4 separate regions of the Homo sapiens genome follow, and all the other regions are linked to region 1. The links come from fine-mapping of genetic effects on gene expression. A gene starts in region 1. Each other region holds a variant in brackets. All regions are shown on one strand. Distances are between the middles of the regions. Region 1 holds the start of GLUL (glutamate-ammonia ligase). Region 2 has its middle 110 kb from the start of ZNF648. Region 3 has its middle 73 kb from the start of ZNF648. Region 4 has its middle 120 kb from the start of ZNF648.

Evidence for each region. PIP is the estimated chance that this variant, and not a neighbour inherited with it, causes the effect.
Region 2: its variant is the best candidate, but not a certain one, in a credible set for the expression of GLUL in monocytes after Pam3CSK4 (Quach 2016, PIP 0.84).
Region 3: its variant is the best candidate, but not a certain one, in a credible set for the expression of GLUL in whole blood (TOPMed, PIP 0.61).
Region 4: its variant is the best candidate, but not a certain one, in a credible set for the expression of GLUL in macrophages (Nedelec 2016, PIP 0.53).

The regions. Positions count from the first base shown.
Region 1 is chr1:182,389,826-182,394,977 of GRCh38, reverse strand. It overlaps GLUL (glutamate-ammonia ligase), which reads left to right and starts at 3,188. Exons shown (of 7, transcript NM_001033044.4): 1 at 3,188-3,299. RefSeq lists a silencer at 2,773-3,452.
Region 2 is chr1:182,168,363-182,173,514 of GRCh38, reverse strand. No RefSeq gene overlaps it. Among named protein-coding and RNA genes, the nearest start is that of ZNF648, 110 kb to the right of the region's middle. The variant G/C (reference allele first, on the strand shown) is at 2,465.
Region 3 is chr1:182,132,282-182,137,433 of GRCh38, reverse strand. No RefSeq gene overlaps it. Among named protein-coding and RNA genes, the nearest start is that of ZNF648, 73 kb to the right of the region's middle. The variant C/A (reference allele first, on the strand shown) is at 2,782.
Region 4 is chr1:182,182,912-182,188,063 of GRCh38, reverse strand. It overlaps the pseudogene YPEL5P1. Among named protein-coding and RNA genes, the nearest start is that of ZNF648, 120 kb to the right of the region's middle. The variant A/G (reference allele first, on the strand shown) is at 2,209.

The sequences.
Region 1 (5,152 bases):
CTTGGGAGGCTGAGGCAGGAGAATTGCTTGAACCCGGGAGGCAGAGGTTACAGTGAGTGGAGGTTGCAGTGAGCCGAGATTGCGCCACTGCATCCAGCCTGAGCAACAGAGTAAGACTCCGTCTCAAAAAAAAAAAAAAAAAAAAAAAAAAAAAAGAGAAAAGTTGTTTCCTAATAGAGATAAGATTTGGGAGTAGAGCAAAATCCTAATACAAAGCTTTTATTTCAGGCAGCAGAACAACATTGAAGAAATACTTTTAATCTCAGGCTATTTCTGCAGATTTGGAACAAAATCTTTCCCTGTAATTGCTCTCCCACTCCACCCACCCCTTGGACATGGCAATTCTACTCTAAGAGAGAAAAATATGACTTCAAAGCACATGCAATGGAACCCCTTGTCAGCACTGATATGGTGTGTACCAAGAAACAGAAAAGTTCATGGGTTCAAGCATTCTAATGCTCTTTTTATGGTGGGGGTGAAGAATGGGGGCGGGTGGCAATTTAGGGAAGAAGGGGAAGGAGAAGAAAGGGCAGCAGACACAGCAAAGTCAAACTGGATGAAACAGGCTGTTTTACTTTTAACTTCTCTAAAAGTACAGTCTGGGTTTCTGCGGGTGAACCAGTTAAGGGTTTTCTTCTGCTTTTACTTCTCGCCTATGCTCAAGCCTCCCTGGTCAGTTCTTGGACTCATCTGCGCCCTAATTTCATCATTTTAAGTAAATGTGGGGCTGGCCAAGGAGGACAAGGCCTCTTGTTCACTCCTGAAAGAGTCAGTGGTCATGTATTATGTTCCTAACCCTTACAAAGCGTGCCCCTGGTCACATGAATGGATCAAAGCAAATCCATTTCCATTCTTGGAAAAGCAGCTCAAAGCACATGTTCTCTTGATGGTGCTGCTGTCACTTCTGTGTGGTTAACAAATATCATTTATTGAACACTCACCGTGGACACTACTGGGGGATATGACAATGAATAAACTGCTCAATGAGGTCAAGACATCTAGGAAGGGAAGCAGGCACTCAAATGGCAGAAATACCATAAGCCTGCAGAACCGCACTCACGCCTTACCATTCCGTTCTCTGTTATGTTTGTCATCCCCACCTCAGGGGCTGGTGGTGTGTGCAGCAGAGGCTCTGGCTTATGGTTCGGTAGTTTGGTATCTGGAAATGATTAATAACATCTTTTAAAATAAAAATATCACTTTTCTCCTCCTTTGCTCCCCTTCCTCGACCATTTAAACTCAAACCTTTACAGAAAGAGATGAAGACAGCTCACTGTGTTACCAAGGTTAAGTCCAGTTTGATATAATGAATGGTAAAGCATTACACTGAGTCAGAAAAGTTGTATTCAAAAGTCGCTATGGGGAAAGAAAGAATCCAATCACCTCAGATTATAGAACTTGGCCTATGATAATTATAATTGCTGTTTTCTAAACATTTACGATGCACCAAGGACTACTCAATCTCTTCTGCATGTGCTATCACAATTAATCCTTTTATGAGGTAAAAATGATTATCCCTCTTTTATTATAGACAAAGAAACAGGCTTCATGTGGCTAAGTGATTTGGCCAACACAAAGCTGGTATGAAGGGAAAGCCCAGATTTGAACCTAGGTTTACCTGACTTGCAGCCGTGCCTTTAGCCACCACAATGTAATGCTTCAAGGGGCAGCACTGAAATTTAACAAGGAATTTGTAAGGCACCTTACCCAATCCAAAATGTCACCAGTCTGAAACATCCCAAAAAACCCTGTTTGAGATGAATGCTGCATCTGTCATGTAAAAGCACTACAGTGTTATACACTCTTAAAGGAAAGGGATGTTGACCAAAGAAGCCAAGTTATGTGTGTGTGGTTGCAGGCAACATTTCTTTTCCACATTTGCGGTACAAAACATAACCAGAACAAACTTCTTCCCTTCCTCTTCCAAAGGCACTGGAAGCATAAATTCTTGCTCTTTAAACTGAAAGAAGCAATAAAATCTGGACACCATCAGGTAGATTTCAGGCACTAAAAATAGAATGATCGAGTAATAGTACGGATAGCAGTATCTACCTACCTACCTACCTACCTACCTATGTTGTGTCTCTAGGTACATTTCAATATTGTGTTCACATACACATTTTCCCAACCATCACGGCAAGCTGAGAGGAGAGGTATGTATTCCCATTTTCCAGATTAACAAGAAGCCGCACTTGATAAAGCAAAATCAGGGAGAATTCGTTAAAGGAATTTCTTGACAATCCCTGGACTTCAAAGGGGGCAAGTGAACACCTCGATTTCCTTTCAGCTGCTCCGGGGGCAGTTTGCACACAGAATTTCAAATCTAGTGGGCGGCTCCACAGGTCATTTTCGATGACCACTTTATTTTGCAGATGAGGAAACTTGGGCCCTGAAAGACCTGCCTAGGGTCTGGCCAGCAGTATGAGACAGGTCTCCAGACTTAGTTTCTACCGCCCTCCAGAATCCTCTCTGTAAAATTAGAGAAACAGCACGTTGATTTCAAATGTGAAATGGCAGAGTTCTGTTTATTTCCCCAGACCCAAGAGAGCCGGAGCGGGCGGCTCTTCCAGGCCTTGGGAACCCCGGCCTGTCCCCAGGCCCGCGCGGCACCCGCCCTAGCCCAGGCCCGCCCAAAGTTCCCTCGGGTCCCGCGCCCCGCGCTCCCTCTCAAGCTAACCCCTGCCCGCAGGAAGCGGGGCTCGGAGGCTCCCTCGCAACAAAAGGCTAAATTCGGTTTCCCTGGTTCCGCATTTCCCCAGGGAGCTCTCCTCGTAAAACTATTCCCCGTGAAGGCGGCAGGGCAGAGGTCCAGGGCGGGCTTTGCTGGGAGCCTCGGGACCCCGGGTTGGGGGCCGTGGGGCGGCACCTGGCGAGCTGGCGGGTGGGCGGCGAGCCGAGGCTTCCCGGCCTGGCGGCAACTCGCCCCTCTGCCCTCAGCCCTCCCGGCTCCGCTCCCTTCCCCCACGCCGCCCTGCCCCTCCCCCACGCCCCTTTCTCTTTCTTTCTTTCTTTCCCAGTTCGCTTGCCCCCACCCCAGCGGCGCCCGCCGGGCTCCTCGCCCAATGGCCGCGGGGCCCGGGACCGCATCAGCTGATCGGCCCGGGCTCCTGGCCGCTGGGAGCCAATCAGGGCACCGGGGGCGGCCCCGGGCCGCGGATAAAGGGTGCGGGGCTGCTGGCGGCTCTGCAGAGTCGAGAGTGGGAGAAGAGCGGAGCGTGTGAGCAGTACTGCGGCCTCCTCTCCTCTCCTAACCTCGCTCTCGCGGCCTAGCTTTACCCGCCCGCCTGCTCGGCGACCAGGTAAGCCCCCGGACGGCCCGGTGTCACGCAAGCGAGGCGCGCCGCCCCTGCTACCCCGCGAGGCGCGCCGCCCAGCCTCTTTTTTCGGCTGCCTGCCCCTCCAGTCCCAGCCCTACGCTGCGGCCTCTCCGGCCCATGCCTGAGATCCGGCATGAGTGCTCCTCCCGCGTGCTTCCGCCGCTGGTGGCTTGGACCCGTCGGGGCTGGCGCTGGTGGGGCGCGCCCTTGGCCAGGCTCTGGGAAGGGCGGGGTGAGTTGTTTTGATCTTCTTTTCACTACTTGCGGCCGAAGCGCCGCCCCTGGAGGCCGTTGGGCCGGCCTGCGCCCTGGGGCTCGCAGTGGTTTGTTTGCGCTGTGGATGGAGTGGCGGTGCGGTCCCCTGTGGAGCGCAAACAAGGCGCTTGGTTGGCGCGGGCGCCTGGCTGCCTTCCTCGTGGTGGGGCCTTCGGAGCAATCGTCCTGGTTCTGGCGATGGTTGAGACGCCTCGATTGCGGCGTGTAACGGTGAGCGTTGTTTGGGCGGCCGGCTCCCGCCTCGGGGTCCCGGGGGCCTTCCAATGTGACCGAACAATGGAGAGCCCGGGCCTCGGCGCAGTCAGTGGAGAAGCCGGTCCGGGCGGAGGCAGCAGCAGCGCGCAGTCCCTACGGCCTGCGCCCCCACCCTCCCCCGGACCCCCCAACCCCTCGGCGGCAGGGTATGGCCACCTCCGTGAGGCCCTGAGATTCGGACGGGGGCCCGAGGGGCAGGGCGCCCACTTTAGGGACATTTCAGTGGGAAGGGGCTGCTCTCAAAGTGGATAATTATAACTCCCTCGGGGGCGGGAAGCGGGGATCCTCCCCCAGCCGCAAGTCCACGAAGAAAGCAACGAATGAAAATTATGAAGACAACGAGAAGTCAGACTCCTCCGGGTCGCGCTCCAGCTGCTTCGGCTTCGTCGCCTACTCTGTGAACTCCGGGGAGAGATCTCGAGTCAAGATTAAGACCTTAACCCACCAACCTGCCTGTTCGGACACCCCCCGGGCCGGCCGCTGTCTGTCCCCTTCTCCATCGCCCTCTCCCAGAAAGCTCCGGTGCTTGGACCAGCTAGAGTCTGAGAAAGAGGAGAGGCGCGAACGCCACTCCAAAAAGAGAAGGGTTAAAGAGGGCAACCCTAACGATACGCTTGACTTTCTGTGGCTGGGGTGAGTGAGGGGGCAGGGAGGACGACCCCGGAGTTGGTGGGAGCTGCAGAAACTGCTGAAAACTTCAGAATCCATTTCCCCCACGTAAACTTGGCACCGCAGCAGCAGCAGTTGATAGAGTGGCACTAGGCTGCTGGCATGCAACTCGGCTCACGGAAAAGAGCAAGAGATCCGAAACTGAGGCTTAGGACAAAGTGTGCATGATATTGGTGGTGTAACATGTTGGAGAGGACAGCCGAGAAATTGGGTTGTAGGTTTTTTTTTTTTGTTTTCCGACAGAGTCTCTATCTGTTACCCAGGTTGGAGTGCAGTGGTGCAATCTCCCGGCTCACTGCAACCTCTGCCTCTGGGGTTCAGGCGATTCTCCTGTGTCAGCCTCCCGAGTAGCTGGGATTACAGGCGTGCACAACCACGCCCGGCTAATTTTTGTATTTTTAGTAGAGACGGGAGTTTCATCGTGTTGGCCAGGCTGGTCTCGAACTTTGTACCTCAGGTGATCTGCCCGCTTCGGTGGGTTGTAGCTTTTAGCGGGAGCTAAAGGGTTCTGGGATGGAGGTGGGAAGTAGGATTTGGCCGGCTGAGTCTTCTAGAGGCAATATTGGGGTGTTGGTCTTCCCCAAGGGGAAGGGTGGTGAGGCTGAGGGAGAAGCAGTTATGTTTTCAGCTGGGCA
Region 2 (5,152 bases), 220 kb after region 1:
GAAATGCATTGAACTTTTTCTGCATTCTGAGCACATGTTATGGTGAGGGCAACAGTGAGTAAGAAATAGTATCTATTTTCTAAAAGCTACAATTTAGCATATGCATGTGTATGTATTATATGTATACGGGTAAAAACTGGTGCCATTTGGAATTTAAATGGCCACTATGAAATGAGAAGGGTGAGCTAGTGGGAATCAGGGGCCTTAGATGGACTCACTGGTTTATTCACTCAATTTGGAATTCATCCAAATCCATCACAATTTGTACTGAGGGGTGGCATGGGAAGGGTCAGTTATAAATGTAATAGGTATTATGAAATAATACATGTAGAGGAATAAAATCTATCACTCCTTGGAGAATCTAGGAAGTCTTTTTGGAAGAAGTTAAATTGACCTGAACTTGAAGGAGAAGTTAGGGCAAACATTCAAAGAAAAGGGAATCCCCAAACAAAAGTAGAAAGCTACAGGGATGGAAAGAATATTTGAGAAAGGGCTGAAAGACCCTGTAGAAACAACAATGAGCTGTTTGTCTTTACTCTGAAGCTGTGAATCCTCAGTGCTCTGGTAAGCAGAGCTACTGCAAGACCTTCATAAGCCCCAAGCATAGAAATTATTATGGTATTTCCCCATATGCTATTTCAAAGTACTAAATTACAAAATAAGGTTAAGTCCAATAAAGTTCTCATTTTGCCCATTAAGAATAGTTTAATCCTTTAAAAAAACCCAAATATCAAATTCTTTTTTAAAAATATGCTTCAGAATCTCTGGTTTGAGATATTATTTAGAATAGGAGAAGCTTTGCTACAGCAAAAATGAACTCTAAAAACTCAATGGTTTAACACTCATGAGTTTGGTCAGGGTAGCCCCTATGGGCAATTCTCCAACTGAATTCCACCTTTTAAAATTTATTTGTAAATTCAGAGATACGAGAGTTTGGTTTGCCATATACTTGCAAATATTCACTCTCCCTTTCATCCAACGAAACTTCCAGAGAGGCATGTGAAAGTGATTTTTAAAACCATATGGTGCACCCTTCAAATTGAAACATTATTATCAACAGTAACAAAGTGGAAAAATGCATACACTTTTAAATTATGTTATCAAGATACTCCTCTCAGCACCTTTATTCATTGGACTTCAGATTGCACTTCCAACTCTACAACCTTCAGCTAAGGAAATGCTCTCAGTTTTGGCTTCCAGGATGCAAGGCTGAACAGACTTGGTCTATGTTCTGGATGAATAAACCAGCGAGTCCATCTAAGGTCCCTGATTCCCACTAGCTCACCCTTTTCATTTCATAGTGGCCATTTAAATTCCAAATGGCACCAGGTTTTACCCTTATACATGTAATAAGGCCTTATATTCCAGTGACATTCTCAAATGAAGAAATGACGTGCCTCATAAATTCAGAATATAATCCCAACTTCAGAAATGTTCAGCAGTAGTAGCGTTGTAGAATACCATTTTTCTGAACTACATCACTGTTACATGGATCCAAGTGACTTTTCCACTGAATTATTCAGAAAATATTTGAGCACATCATGTTTCATACACTGAGTAGTGGACGAAAGTAATAGTTATCATTTACGTATTGCTTACTATATTCTGTGTGTTTACATAAACTTACTCATTTAATTCTCATAATGGTCATATGAGAGAGCTACTAGTATGAGTCCCATTTTACACATGGATAGGATGACTATCTTAGAAAACTAAGGTGCAGAGGCCATAAGTAACCTGATTAGTCTATACCAGTGGTTCTCAGCCCTGGGGTGATTTTTCCTGTCTTCCAGGGGACATTTGGCAATGTCAGGAGACATTTTTAATTCTCATGACAGGTGGTGCTGAGGGACTATAAAGCCTAGGGATGCTGCTAAACATTCTATAGTACACAGAACAGCCCCCACAACAGGAAGAATCCAGTCCAAAATGTCAGTGTTACTGCTATTGAAAAGCCTTGATCTATACCAGTTAGCACATGACATCCTTCTGGCAACTGTTATTAGGCCAATGATGAATGTATTACTTAATTTGGCCCAATCAGACTAAAGGAGGGGCCTTTGGGCAGAGGTTACTTCCATTCATTCTTTCCTACTGGATATGAACAGGAAGTGTGTGGCCAGCTGATATCCAGTGGCCGCCATCTTGTTGAATGAACCCATGCTGAGGACAGCAGACTGGAAGGACAGAAATAACCTCTGTCCCTGATGACATTACTGAATAGCACTGAACCGTATCTTTCCTGAAACCCAAGCCATCTCTGGACTTTAAGTATGTGAGACAATACATTTGTTTGCATTTTTCAAGCTGTGTGAGTGGGAGTTTTCTGTTTCAGGCAGCTGAAAGTGTCATAACCAACATATTTGGTTAATCACAAAGATTTCTTAGAAAATACAGCAAAGTCTCCTCCACGTGGTCAGATTCCTCTTCTGAAACTTATGCTTCTCCTTTCTAGCTGTACTTC[G/C]TCTTACGAGAAAATTAGGAGACAATGCTGTCAGCTAGGTTCTCCTTCTGTCTGAAAGACTACATAAGGTTGAGACTTCCTGGCACCCGTCGACAAGCAGTTAGAATACATGCCAGAGAAGGAGGGGAAGGCCAAAGGGGGATGCTGCCATCTATATGGAAACATAGAATAATAGACACATGGAAAAAACAGAGGGAAATGAATTGCTGAACTCTGTGGTAACGACACTCTGTTTATCGTAATAGATAAAATGGAAAAGAGGAGCTGGATATGTTTGGAGGAGATGAGCTTGGGAAGGAAGGCCATTCACGGTGTCCCAGGTGACTTGGGACAATGTATTGAAGGAATTGGAAGAGATAATCTTTAAACATTGTTATAGCCTAGCATTTTATCATTTGAAACTAACAGAGATGCCAGCCTGAACTGTTTGGCACTCATACAGCATCCTATGGACTCCGATGGTGGCAGTGCCCATTATTTATTCTGGAAACCACAATCTTGTTATTGCCCAAGTACCTGTATGAGGTAGCATAGAGGGGCCCACCTCCTTTTAGATCATTAGGCACATCTTTAGAAAAGGGAGGTAGAAGCTAGCTTGCCTTAGGAAACCTGAGAATGCCTTAAAGGAAGTGTGTGGAATGAGTTTCTTAAACATCTATGGCACATTAGGGAGTGTTCTGGAGCTGCCATAGACAGGTATCATTTTGTTTTGAATGTGAATTATTAGTTTTTTTTTTCTTTTTTTTTTTTTCTTTTGGAGACAGGGTCTCACTCTGTCACCCAGGCTGGAGTGCGGTGGTATGCTCGTGACTCACTGCAGCCTCTACTTCCCTAGCTCAAACAATCCTCCCACCTCAGCCTCCTGTAGCTGGGAATACAGACACACGCCACCATGACCAGCTATTTATTTTTATTTTTTATTTTTTTGGTACAGATGAGGTCTTGGCATGCTGCTCAGGTTGGTCTCAAACTCCTGGCCTCAAGCAATCCCTCCACCTTGGTCTCCCATAGCCCTGGGATTCCAGGCATAAACCACCACACCCAGACTTAGTTTGGTGTCTCAGCCCTGGAAAATATAATAATTTGAACATAATCTGCCAAAAATAACGTGTATTTATGGTGCCTGGTACTTGTCTCTACATTATATGTGCTTCCTCATGACATTCATGATTTCAATGAATGTCAATTCCCATTCTGGGTTTGACTATGAATAGCCAGTAAGCACACATTCCCCAGGTGGCTAACTTCCTCCAGACCTCTCTGACATGCACAGAAAAAAAATCAACAGAGAAATCAGGCAAGAGGTGCGAACATTCTGTTTCCCAGATCCCTAGACAACACAGCAAGAAAGACAGAGTTAGAAGCATGGTTAAGTGGGTGCAGAAGGCTCCAAAAAGTACAGGTGACACCACGTGTGTTCAAAGATTTCCTGACTTTAAATTCTCTCTGAAAAACTAGCATAGTCTATGGACTCCTCTCATTACTGAACTCTTTAGCAAGACCACAGAGTTTCCTGTTTTTGCCTTTTCCCCGATTTCCCAAATTAGCTTTGATTTTATAATTTTGCAGTGATATCCAAGAAGGGTGGACTTTGCTGACGGTCCATATTCAGTGTTCCTGCTGAAGTGCAGACACGTGATCCTGGGCTCTCCTGCTGAGCCTTGCCTGTAGACCCGTGGCTCACACGCACTCGTTTTGCAATCCATTTCTGTGCTACCACATCAGGCTTTTTCCCCTCTGAGACTGAAGAGAAATCGACCTACCCAATCAACTCTCTCACTTGCATAGGAGTCTCACCTGTCGTTAGTCCTCTGGAGCAAGCAGTTTCATCTTAACCCGGTGGTGACAGCATCAGACACAGTTCAGTATTTTTCAAACTGCAGATCTAGACCTATTCGTGAGTCCTAAAATAAATGTAATAGATTACAACCAGCAATAATCCCAGCTATTCAGGAGGCTGAGGCAGGAATATTGCTTGAACCCGGGAGGCAGAGGTTTCAGTGACCCAAGATTGCGCCACGGCGCTCCAGCCTGGGCGACAGAGTGTGACTTCATTTCAAAAAAAAAAAAGGTGAAATAAAGTAGATCAGATCAGAACTGTGGAAAGGAGTGGCCTAAAATCTTAGCGTGGCCTTCATGTAATAGGGACAAGTATTGTATCACAAAACTTCAATTGTTTCTTCTGTTATATAAATGCGTCAATATGAATGCACATATTATGTCATGATGTAAAACTATTTCTTAATGTGGGTTGCAATCAAAATAATCTGAAAGCTACTGAAATATTTAATTGGAATATCATTCTACTATCTCCAAATCTCTTTCTATTGGGAAGTGGCAAGTATGTTGTTTATTTAGGCAACTGGAGAGAAATGCTTTTAGTCATCTACTACATAAACCCATGGACTCTGATATTTCTCTTAGGGAGTCTGTGCCACATGCTACCCAGAAAAATGCTTGGTAGTTCAGCCACCTTCCCTTCCTTTGGCGCCTTCCACCCCCTTAGCAGAACCCTCAAGAGGAGCAGGCATTGGGACTGGTAAGCTAAATTGAAAGATTGGAGCAGATTCCACAACCCTCCGATGAAATCCACTCAAAAACATTTAGTATAACATCTGTTATGGTAAACATCTGCTACTGTACAAGATGAGAAAAGGACAACCATTCTGTAATAGGTCCAGAGCAGGG
Region 3 (5,152 bases), 260 kb after region 1:
TGGAATGGCTTCAAAATGCTAAAAATTTGTTAAATAACCTAGGCAGGTTCAGCCAGGGCCGTGATAACTCTTCTAATTGAGGGTTGAGAGATACTGAGGACAAAGGCCTTGGAGTTAGACTGATCTGGGTCTAATCTTGGTTCTGCTATTTACTTGCTCTGCAACTTTGGGAACATAATTTCTCTCCTAAGTGAAACAGAGATAGGAATATCTACCTTGCAGCGTTGTGGTGAGGATTAGCAAGTATGCATGTAAATAGCCTTAACCCTGGGTATTCACTGAATACCTAGAAGATACTTGAGAAATGGAAGCTCTTTTTATATTGATTTGGGCTTTGCAAGCTGCTAAGAAACTGACACCCTCCTCTTTCAGTTCTACTTTCTTTAGAGAAAGAAGCAAAAGATTCTCATTAAATGTATTCCACGAAGAACAGACTGACACCAACCTCTTCATATGCCTGAGATTTCTATTTTCAGCAGAGCCCACTCCAACTTCAGAGGGAGAGTGTATTACAGTTTTACTATTAATCAGCATTATCTGATGACAGACTTGTTGACTGTGAAAGTCTGGTTTTACTTATTTCTTTTGTTTTATTTTAGTAGACAGAATGCCGTATTTTTTTTAAACAGCTTTATTGAGTTGTAATTTATGTACCATACCATTTACTAATTTAATGTGTGCAAGTCAATGGCTTTTAGTACATTGATAAAATCATGCATCCATCACCAATCTCAAATTCTAGAACATTTTCATCTCCCCACAAAAGAAACCTTACACCCACTAGCAGTCAAAGCCATTTCCCCACCTTACCCCTCAGCCTCTGATAAGAATGAATCTACTTTCTGTCTCTATAGATTTGCCTATTCTGGACATTTCATATAAATGAAATCATATAATATGTGACCTTCTACAATTTGGTTTCTTTCAATTAGCATAATATTTTCAAGGAAAATCCCTTATTCAATGGTGAAGATATCTTATTATGTCACAGGAGTTCAGTGAGGGCCATTCATTCCTTGGTAGTGTCTTCTTGAGGCCCAGGCACTCTTTGGATCCTTTCTCAAGCCCAAGTTTACTGTCACAGGAACCCCAGGTCCACAACAGCCACTTAAGAGCATCAACTTGCACCCCAGACTTGGATTTAAACACTTTGGATCACTGAATCCATATTGGCAGTGGAGCTGATGTGCTTGAAATTAAGATGCATTCTAATGCTCAGTCTCCGTTCAGGCACTATCATGTAGATCTCCCAAGGGGTCTATAGACCCACACAGGAAGCTGGCATAGTGGTGGCTTTTGAGGCAGACTCTATAATCTTGAGAGGTAGGTGTGTCATTCAAGCTCCTGTGGTTAGATAGCTCTGGGGGCTGCTAACAAAAAAGGAGAAAAAATGTCCTGAATGTCACAAAATCTGCACTGAATTCAAGTCCAGTCATTCAGCTACTCCATTCTCTGTTATTCTCCTTGTGGAACTGAAATCTCATAAAACAAGGTGTGTGCATCATAGTTCGCAGAGGTGCTCTGCAATGTCACTAGAGGAAGGAGGAGAGGTTGCAGCCTAAATTATCCAGGGCACCACGGTGGGGAGTCAGGGGGGTGCAGTTCCCAGAACAGAACAATCCAGGTTCAGCTAAATAAAAGGCTCCAAGAGACTTAAACTGTTCAACAGACAGCTTGGAACAAAAGTCACAAAACAAAATTGGCCTCAACTTCAAGGTTAACCAACTGAAAATAAATAAGCATATGTGTAAGAAAATCTTAAAAGCCAACTGGCAAGTTTTGCAGAGGCTAGGCAGTAGTTTGGCCCCAAGGCCAACGGTGGGGCTAAAGTTGGGTCTCCCCCTGGGTTACCAAGGAAGGAGCTTCTTTAGCCAGATAGGATACCAATAACCGAGAACAGAAGGTCAGCAGCATTCTGAAATAGATAATAGGCCAAGTCATTTTGTAAGATATCCCAATGTTTCCTTCTAACTTAGTGAGAAATTATCCCAGGCATAGCAACAGTCACCAGAATTTTAATGCTAGAACAAACCTCAGAGGTCACTAGTTTGATGTGCTCTGTTTCCAAATTGGGAAGTAGGGTTTAGAGAAATTAACGGACTTGACCAAAGTCATACAGCGATGGAGTTGCAGGTCCAGGAGATCCCAGACTACCTGACTCCAGTTCAGTGTTTTTTATATCACACAGCCTGATTCCTAATGTGTGGCCTCTGGGAATTCTTGTTTCCTAATGGCACTATGTCTCATGTGGGCTTTTATTACAAATCATATTTATAGTTAATAGCAACAGTATTAACAGTCCTCTGGTGGTAAGAACTACCTGCTCACCAGTTTTTGTTTTTCAGGCTGAACACTGACTACAGGAGATTGCAATATACACGTTTTTCATTTCCCTGTTGGCAAAAAGAGATTCCTAATAAATCTTGCTTTCTGAAGCTGCCTCTAGGGATTGTGGGTAAAATTTAGGATATTTATTCAATGTCAACAAGAAAACAGTTTCCTCATACTCAAAGTCAAGGTGTATATTATCTAGCTTAGCAACTAAATCTGGCCCATACAGAGAAGCAGTAACTCTATAAGGGTTGATTTGTGAGCTAAAATAATAAGCTCTGTGAAGTTCCTAGAGGAGTGCAGGTGAGTGAGGGGTGTGGGTGACAAGGGAGGGCTTCATGTGGGAGATGGGAAGGCTTCATGGCTTTTAGTATATTGATAAAAATCATGCATCCATCACCACTGTCAAATCCCAGACCATTTTCATCTCCCCAAAAAAGAAACCCCATA[C/A]CCATTAGCAGTCATAGCCATTTCCCCACTGTATTAGTCTGTTCTCCCATGGCTATAAGGACATACCCAAGACTGGGTAATTTATAAAGGAAAGAGGTTTAATTAACTCACAATTCCACAGGGCTGGGGAGGCCTCAGGAAACTTACAATCGTGGTGGAAGCGAAAGCAAACATGTCCTTCTTCACATAGCGGCAGGAAGGAGAAGAATGAGTGCCCAGAGAAGGGGGAAGCCCCTTACAAAACCATCAGACCTCATGAGAACTAACTCATTATCATTAGAACAGGATGAGGGAGACTGCCCCCATGATTCAATTATCTCCACTGGACCCCTCCCGAAACACATGGGGATTATGTGAAATACAATTCAGGATGAGATTTGGGTGGGGACACAGCCAAACCATATCACCTGCCTTATGCCTCAGCCTCTGACAACAACTAATCTACTTTTTTCTCTATAGATCAGGGAAGGCTTCAGGTGGGAGGTGGGACATAAGCCAGCCTTTAGATAGAGTAGGATAGAGCTGATGAAGGGGGTCCTTATGCCAAGAGAAAGAAATATGAGGAGTGAGGGCAGAGCCATGGGAATGAGCAGAGCATTTTCATGATGAGATGGCTAAGCTGGAATAGAATTAGGTGTGGAGTACAAAGGAATAAGGCTGGATGATATAGTTCCTGGCAACCCAGAAAGAGGATCATAAATAGAAGCCACAGAGACATTTTAAGCAAAGAAGTGGCATTAATGTAGTTGTTCTGGCATGCAGGACAAATTGAAGGACACATAGACCAGAATCATGGGAACCAGTCATTACATCTCTATTGCAAGACACATCTATAAAGCACCAAGGGTCTGAATTAGGCATCCCAGTACAAGTAGAAAGGGAGTTACAGGCATGGCATACATTTCAAAGGAAATATTGGGCCCATGCCACGTGCTTGTGTTTCCTTAAGGTAGCCTTTGCTCATTCCTCCTATTGCTGAAACAACAAATAGTTTTACTTACAAATATTGTGTTTTCTAGATGTCTATATATTGATATTTGTATGTTTCTCATGATTTACTTGATTTTCCAAATGTCTAATTGCTTTAGATGAGGTTTAAATTTTTGGAAGAATTTTTCAGGGTGGAGTTATCATAATACTTTATAGTCTTCAAATGACACGTCAAATATTTTTGAAATCTTTAAATGCTCTGAAGTTTTCAACATATAGTATATTAGTCAGGCTCTTGCTGTTTCAGGCTACAAGAAAGAGACACGGTCGGGGGCAGTGGCTCATGCCTGTAATACCAGCACTTTGGGAGCCTGAGGGCGGTGGATCACCTGAGGTCAGGAGTTTGAGACCAGCTTGACCAACATGGCAAAACCCCGTCTCTACTAAATACAAAAAGTTAGCCGTGTTTGGTAGTATATGCTTGTAATCCCAGCTACTTGGGAAGCTGAGGCAGAAGAATCGCTTGAACCCAGGAGGCAGAGGTTGCTGTTGGCCGAGATTGTGCCATTGCACTCCAGCCTGGGCAACAAGAGCAAAACTCTGTCTCCAAAAAAAAAAGAAAGAAAAGAAAAGAAAAAAAGAGACACACCCAGCTTATGCTAAGTGTTGGAGCTTTATTGTTGGAATTTACAGGGAAGTAAGGGAATGGGTCAAGTGCTCAGCAGTTTTGCAACCATTCTGTGTTCCACATTCTGGTCCAAGGCTTTCAAAATGGAATGCACATTAGGCCTAGACTGGACTGGGGAGCAATAAAATACTTTGACATGATTCAGGTTACTGCAGAGACTCCTGTGACCCTCCTTTTCTGTAGTATCTTTTACATTTCCCAAGAGAGGATGTGATTGCATTGTTGCTATCCAGTGTGAAGGACCACCACTAGATAGAGTTTTTCCCCAACACAGCACATTGAGTAGTGCTCTGCATCATAGTTAATCCATACTTGATTGCGTTTGACTGAAGGCCAATTCCTATAGTAATTAGCTGTGGCAGGGCTGATATCTCTCATCACAGATGAACTGAACCGTAATTATTCAGGCAGAAAGAAATGCTTGGGGTCGCTTTGCTTGCAGAGGTCTATGGCAGACACTCAGAGCTTCCTGTCTAGTTTATATGGGTCGGATGATAGTAGAAACGAGTGTATGGAGATGGTATAGTGGGAGGAATTATCTTTACCCAAAAGAGGCATATGATAACTTTCTGAGTTTTAAACTTAGGAAGACTGCTGGGTCTCAAATGGACAAGGATTCCTACATATTTTGAGCTTATCCCTAGCTTCTGCTTACATCGAAAAGTAAAATTTTCCCTTTTCCTCCCCTAATGAGTCAGAAAATATGGTCCCATGGCATACGTGGGGATTGTCGTGACTGTATTTTATTGTGGC
Region 4 (5,152 bases), 210 kb after region 1:
TAGTTTTAGGGAACTGGCGATAAAGCATAGGTCCCTGCTCTCTAATTTACTTAGATGAAGCCACAGAGGCCTATAGTAGGATGAGGATGAGAGAATGTGAAAGGAGAAAATATAGAGAAATAAATATGTCACTCTCTTCTCCAAAGTCACAATGGCAGACAAAATTGTAACAGACAAGAATTTATTAGCCTGGAAAATGTGACAGAGTATCTGAAATTGGCATTGTGCAGTGTCTTAGTCAGTTTGCACAGCTCTAACAAATGTACCATAGACTAGGTGGCTTATAAACAGCAGAAACTTATTTCCCACAGTTGTGAAGGCTGAAAAGTCTGAGATCAGGGTGCTGGAGTGGTCATGGTCAGGTTCTGGCAAGGGTTCTCTTCCAGGTTGCACACTTTCCATCTTTTCACTGTATCCTCTCCTGTTGGAAGGAGAGTAAGAGAGTCTCTGGGGTGTCTTTTATAAGGTACTAATCCCATTCATGAGGGCTCTACTCTCATGACCTAGTCACTTCCCAAAGACCCCTCCTCCTAATACCATAATATTGGGGATTAGGATTTCAACATATGAATTTTGGGGGACATGAACATTCAGTCCATTGCATCAAGATATGAGTCATCTATGTTATTCTCCATAGTACCCACATCATCTAGCACAGTGCTTAGTACAGAGAAGATGCTCAAAATAATTGTATAATGAGTGATTGAATGGTGTTCCTAGGTGGAGGACAGATCTGCTCATCTCAGGGCACCTGCCTCCTTCTGCCTTATGCCATACACTCATGGAAGGCTGCTTTTTTTCCCTCTAAATATCCATGGGGATTTTCATGTTGAAAAAAAAAAATCAGACTCTTGGCTGAAGGAGAATTTCTTAGCCTGGTGACATTAAAACCAATAAGAGATGAATGTTGAGCCAAGGCAGAAGAGAATGGGTTCAGTGTAAAGACTGTGGGTCCAGTCAGGCTGGCAGGAAACCTGAGAACTTCAAGGTTCCAGGTCCGTCTGAAATGCCTGTTGCTATGGACTGAATTGTGTCCCACCACCAAATTCAGATGTAGGAGCTCTAACTCCAGTGCTCATTGTGATGGTATGGGAGATAATTAAGTTTAGATGAGGTCACGAGGGTAGGTCTTCATGATGGGTTGGGATTAGTGCACTGGTAAGAAAAGGAAGAGATACCAGAGCTCATGCACTCTCTCCTCCCCACCCCAACCTCTCTCTTTCCATCATGGGAGGACACAGCAAGAAGGCAGCCATATGCAAGCAAGAAAGAGAGACCTCGTCAGAACCTGATCATGCTGGGACCCCAGTCTTGTACTTTCAGCTTCCGGAACTAAGGGGAAAACATTTCTATGAAGCCATCCAGTGTGTGATATTTTGTTATGACAGCCAGAGCTGACTAATATACCCATAAATCAGCTGTAAAGGAGTTTGCCCACTGGTTTTGGTGGTGAGCTGCTAATATCATTCCGGTGGTGTGATGCCTGCTACCAGAAAGCTGCCATTAGAAATTCTCCCTGCATGAAAGTACAGCCCTTTCCAGCTGAATGAGCCTTGACAAACAAATTAGATGATTCATCCTATGCCTGAAGGCTGTTTGGCTTTGCTGGAATCCTTAGCATACCACTACTGAAGAATTTTTTAAAACATTATTTTGTTTTAAATAGAATCTATGTCAAGCATTAATTGTTATCTATGCATTGATGCTGGAAAAATTTATCATCTTGTCTGTCTGTAATGAATTTTTTAAAATTAACTTCTTTTTTATTTAAACTAATGGTCAGCACTAAAATGGTAAGCCCTCCTCTGATCTTCTGAAATAGGAAAAAGAAAGTAAATGAATAACAGCCACATACTAAGTTATTGAATTACAAGTGAACCAATTAATACTTAGATTTTGTAAGCATTATTGTACCCTAAGAATCATAGATAATGCATGGAATCTCCAGTAGATTACATGCCCTGCTGCTTTTGAGGATAATACATGGGAAGAAGTTTGCACATTTAAGGTTTAAATGTGCCTGCCAAAAAACCATGTGCTGGTAACTTAATCTCCATTGCAACTGTGTTGAGAGGTGAGGTCTAGTGAGAGGTGATTAGGCCATGAGGGCTCCACCCTCATGAATTGATTAATACAAACCTACAGGATTGAGTTCATTCTAAAAGGGTGAGTTTGGTCCCTGGTCCCCAGCCCCCTGTGCCTTCCACT[A/G]TGAGATGACTTAGCAAGAAGACCCTTGCCAAATGCCAGCCTTTCCATCTGGGACTTCCCAGCTTCCAGAACCATAAGCCAATACATTTCTAATCTTTATACATTACTCAGTCTCAGGTATTCTTTTATGAAAGCACAACACAGACTAAGGCAGGATGGTTTGCATATGTCAACTTGATTAACCTGGAAGTATATTTCCCAGAGTTCCCCCCACCGATATGGTTCTTGATTGGAGTTGTCAAAAAAGAAATGTGCATGAGATTTGAAAGATTAAAGTGAAGCAGCATGATTACCTCTGAAAGTCATTGTGATTAGACATGACGACAGATGCAGAGGTGCTGGCAGGTTCCAGTTTGTCCTTGCTGTCATCTCCTCTACATTCTACCTATCTTCCTACCTGACCCCACTGATCAACAGTGGTCTGAGAGTCCAGGCCTATCGCCATATATTGGCAGTGGAGGCAGTTTCTCATGGGCTTCCCATGAGCTTGCCTTTGCAGTTTCACTTCTGCAGTAGGACATGCATAACTGTTACTTACTCTTGCTCTGATCTTTCAACTCTCCAGTGGCACCTTCACTTTCTCTGCTTCTTCCATAATTATGTAAGGTCTAAATTTTATAATAAATCCCTTGCTTCATAACTGACAGTGGTTCTTCTTTCCTGTTGGAATCCCAAGATGCCCCATGGGAGGGAATTATTGTTAATTACTGGAGGATTCCTGTTTGGAGAAGCATTACAGTTTGGACTCAGAGATACTGGGTACCCACCTCAGTTCTACCACTACCAGCTGGTTGACCTCGTACAAGATATCTAACCTCTCAAGCCTCATTTTCTTTTCTTTTCTTTTCTTTTCTTTTCTTTTTTTTTTTTTTTTTTTTTTGAGACAGGATTTGGAGTGCAGTGATGTGATCTCAGCTCACTGCAACCTCCACCTCCTGGGCTCAAATGATCCTCCCACATCAGCCCTCCTGAGTAGCTGGGACTACAGGTGCATGCCACCACCCCCAGCTAGGTTTTGTATTTTTTGTAGAGATGGGGGTTTCATCATGTTGGCCAGGATGGTCTTGAACTCCTGGGCTCAAGCAATCCACCCACGTTGGCCTCTCAAAGTGCTCAGATTACAGGCGTGAGCCACCATGCCTGGCCCCCATTTTCTTTTCTTGTAACCAATAACATATAACATATATATATATATATATATATATATATATATATATATATATATATATACACACACCCACACACACACACACATATATAAGCACATGTAACATATATTAACATATAACAAATAGCCAATAACATGAGCTACCTTATATGAGAGGGTCTTTGTGAGGTTTAGATGATATGTTGCATGTAAATCACTTAGTCTAGCAAATAGTAAATGCTCAGTAAATGTTAATTTTTTTTCACTGACAATTCTTGCTCCAGAATTGTTAGTTATTATTGAAGGAGCTTAATGCCTGAAGGGGAATCAGGTACTAGAGCCTAAAATATACAAAGAAAAGCAGACTGTTGAGCATAGGTGTTTTAAGGTTTGGGGAGAGCTGACGTTGGCAAGACAAGCAGGAATCAGCAACGGGTGGAGCACAACAGGGAGGCAAGACAGGAGGAATGGCGCAGCTCAGGAGAGAAGCTGTAAACATCAAGTACCCAAGCACCAGGGGAACAGAGACTTAAAACTGCAGGTTCAGAATGGGCATCACTCACTCTCTGCCGTGGAGCCCTCCTGCTAAGTCAAGCCAGGTCTCCCTGGGATCACTGGCTGCTATGTAGGATTTGGGGGATTTCTGGATCACTCTGCTAGTTCACAGCTGTTACTCTGCTTCAAGTATTGAAGAAGTTTTTTGTGGCACTAAAAGAAACGCAGAATGGCCAGCACCCATTTGGTCCCCTCTCAGAGTGTCACAGCAGCCATCATGGGGGAAGGAGGAGTTATGTCATACAGAAGCTCATACCTCAACCCTAGTAAAAGAGCAGAGATGCAGGGTGAATGTGCATGTGTGTCTGGGGTGGGTATAATGAGTGATAACAGCTAGGTAGATACCGTGTTCATAACCTCTACCTCTTCAAAGAGATCCAAGAAACTATGTTTGAGTTGGAATCATGCCTATGTTGGAGAAGAAAAAAGCCCACACTTCCTTCTTCCTGAACTAACTGCATTAGGATCGTGTGCAACTAAGGCATCACCCATAGGCAATGAAAAGGCTTTAAACAAATGGAAAAAAATCTGGATATCACATGGAATGAGAAAACATGATTAGAGAGAAGTGTAGATGTGTGACTTTACAGAAGGTTCTGGACGTACTAATAGCTATCTTTGGCTGTCTGAAAGCCTTCATGGGAAGACAGGTTGGACATCAATGAATGGAAATAAAGAGAAGGTAGGTTTGCCTCAGTGTATCTCTGTCATTGAGGATTTCCAAGGAGAAGCCAGATGAAGAAGAAGAGGAAGGGAGTGATGAGGAGGAGAAAAGAAAAGGAAGAAAAAGAGGAGGAAGAAGAAAGAGGAAGAGGAGGAGGTCAGCATTTATTGAGCACTTCCTATGTACCAGGCATTGTTTTAAATAAGCTAAATATATTATCTTATTAAAATCTTACAGTATCACAACCCAGCATCAAGGGAAGCCCAGGCCAGCCCAGTTATGTCCACTGTGGGTTGCGTCCTACCTTTCACTTGCTGTAGGGAGGGTTGGTGTGTTCTTGCAACCCCTTTATTCTACTCACCTATGCAGGTTTTTAAAATTTCAGCTCCAAAAATGGGCAGAATTTTCCTTGATTATATTGGCAGTACCCATTTGTTTTCTCGTGCAAACTGTGATATAATCCTGACCAATGGCTCAGAACTCAGCTCATCTCTACTAGGTGCACAGGCACCACTAGCAGGGCGTTTCTTTGTCACAAAGTAGTTAACCTACAGTATGGTGAAGTTCAAGATCGGATC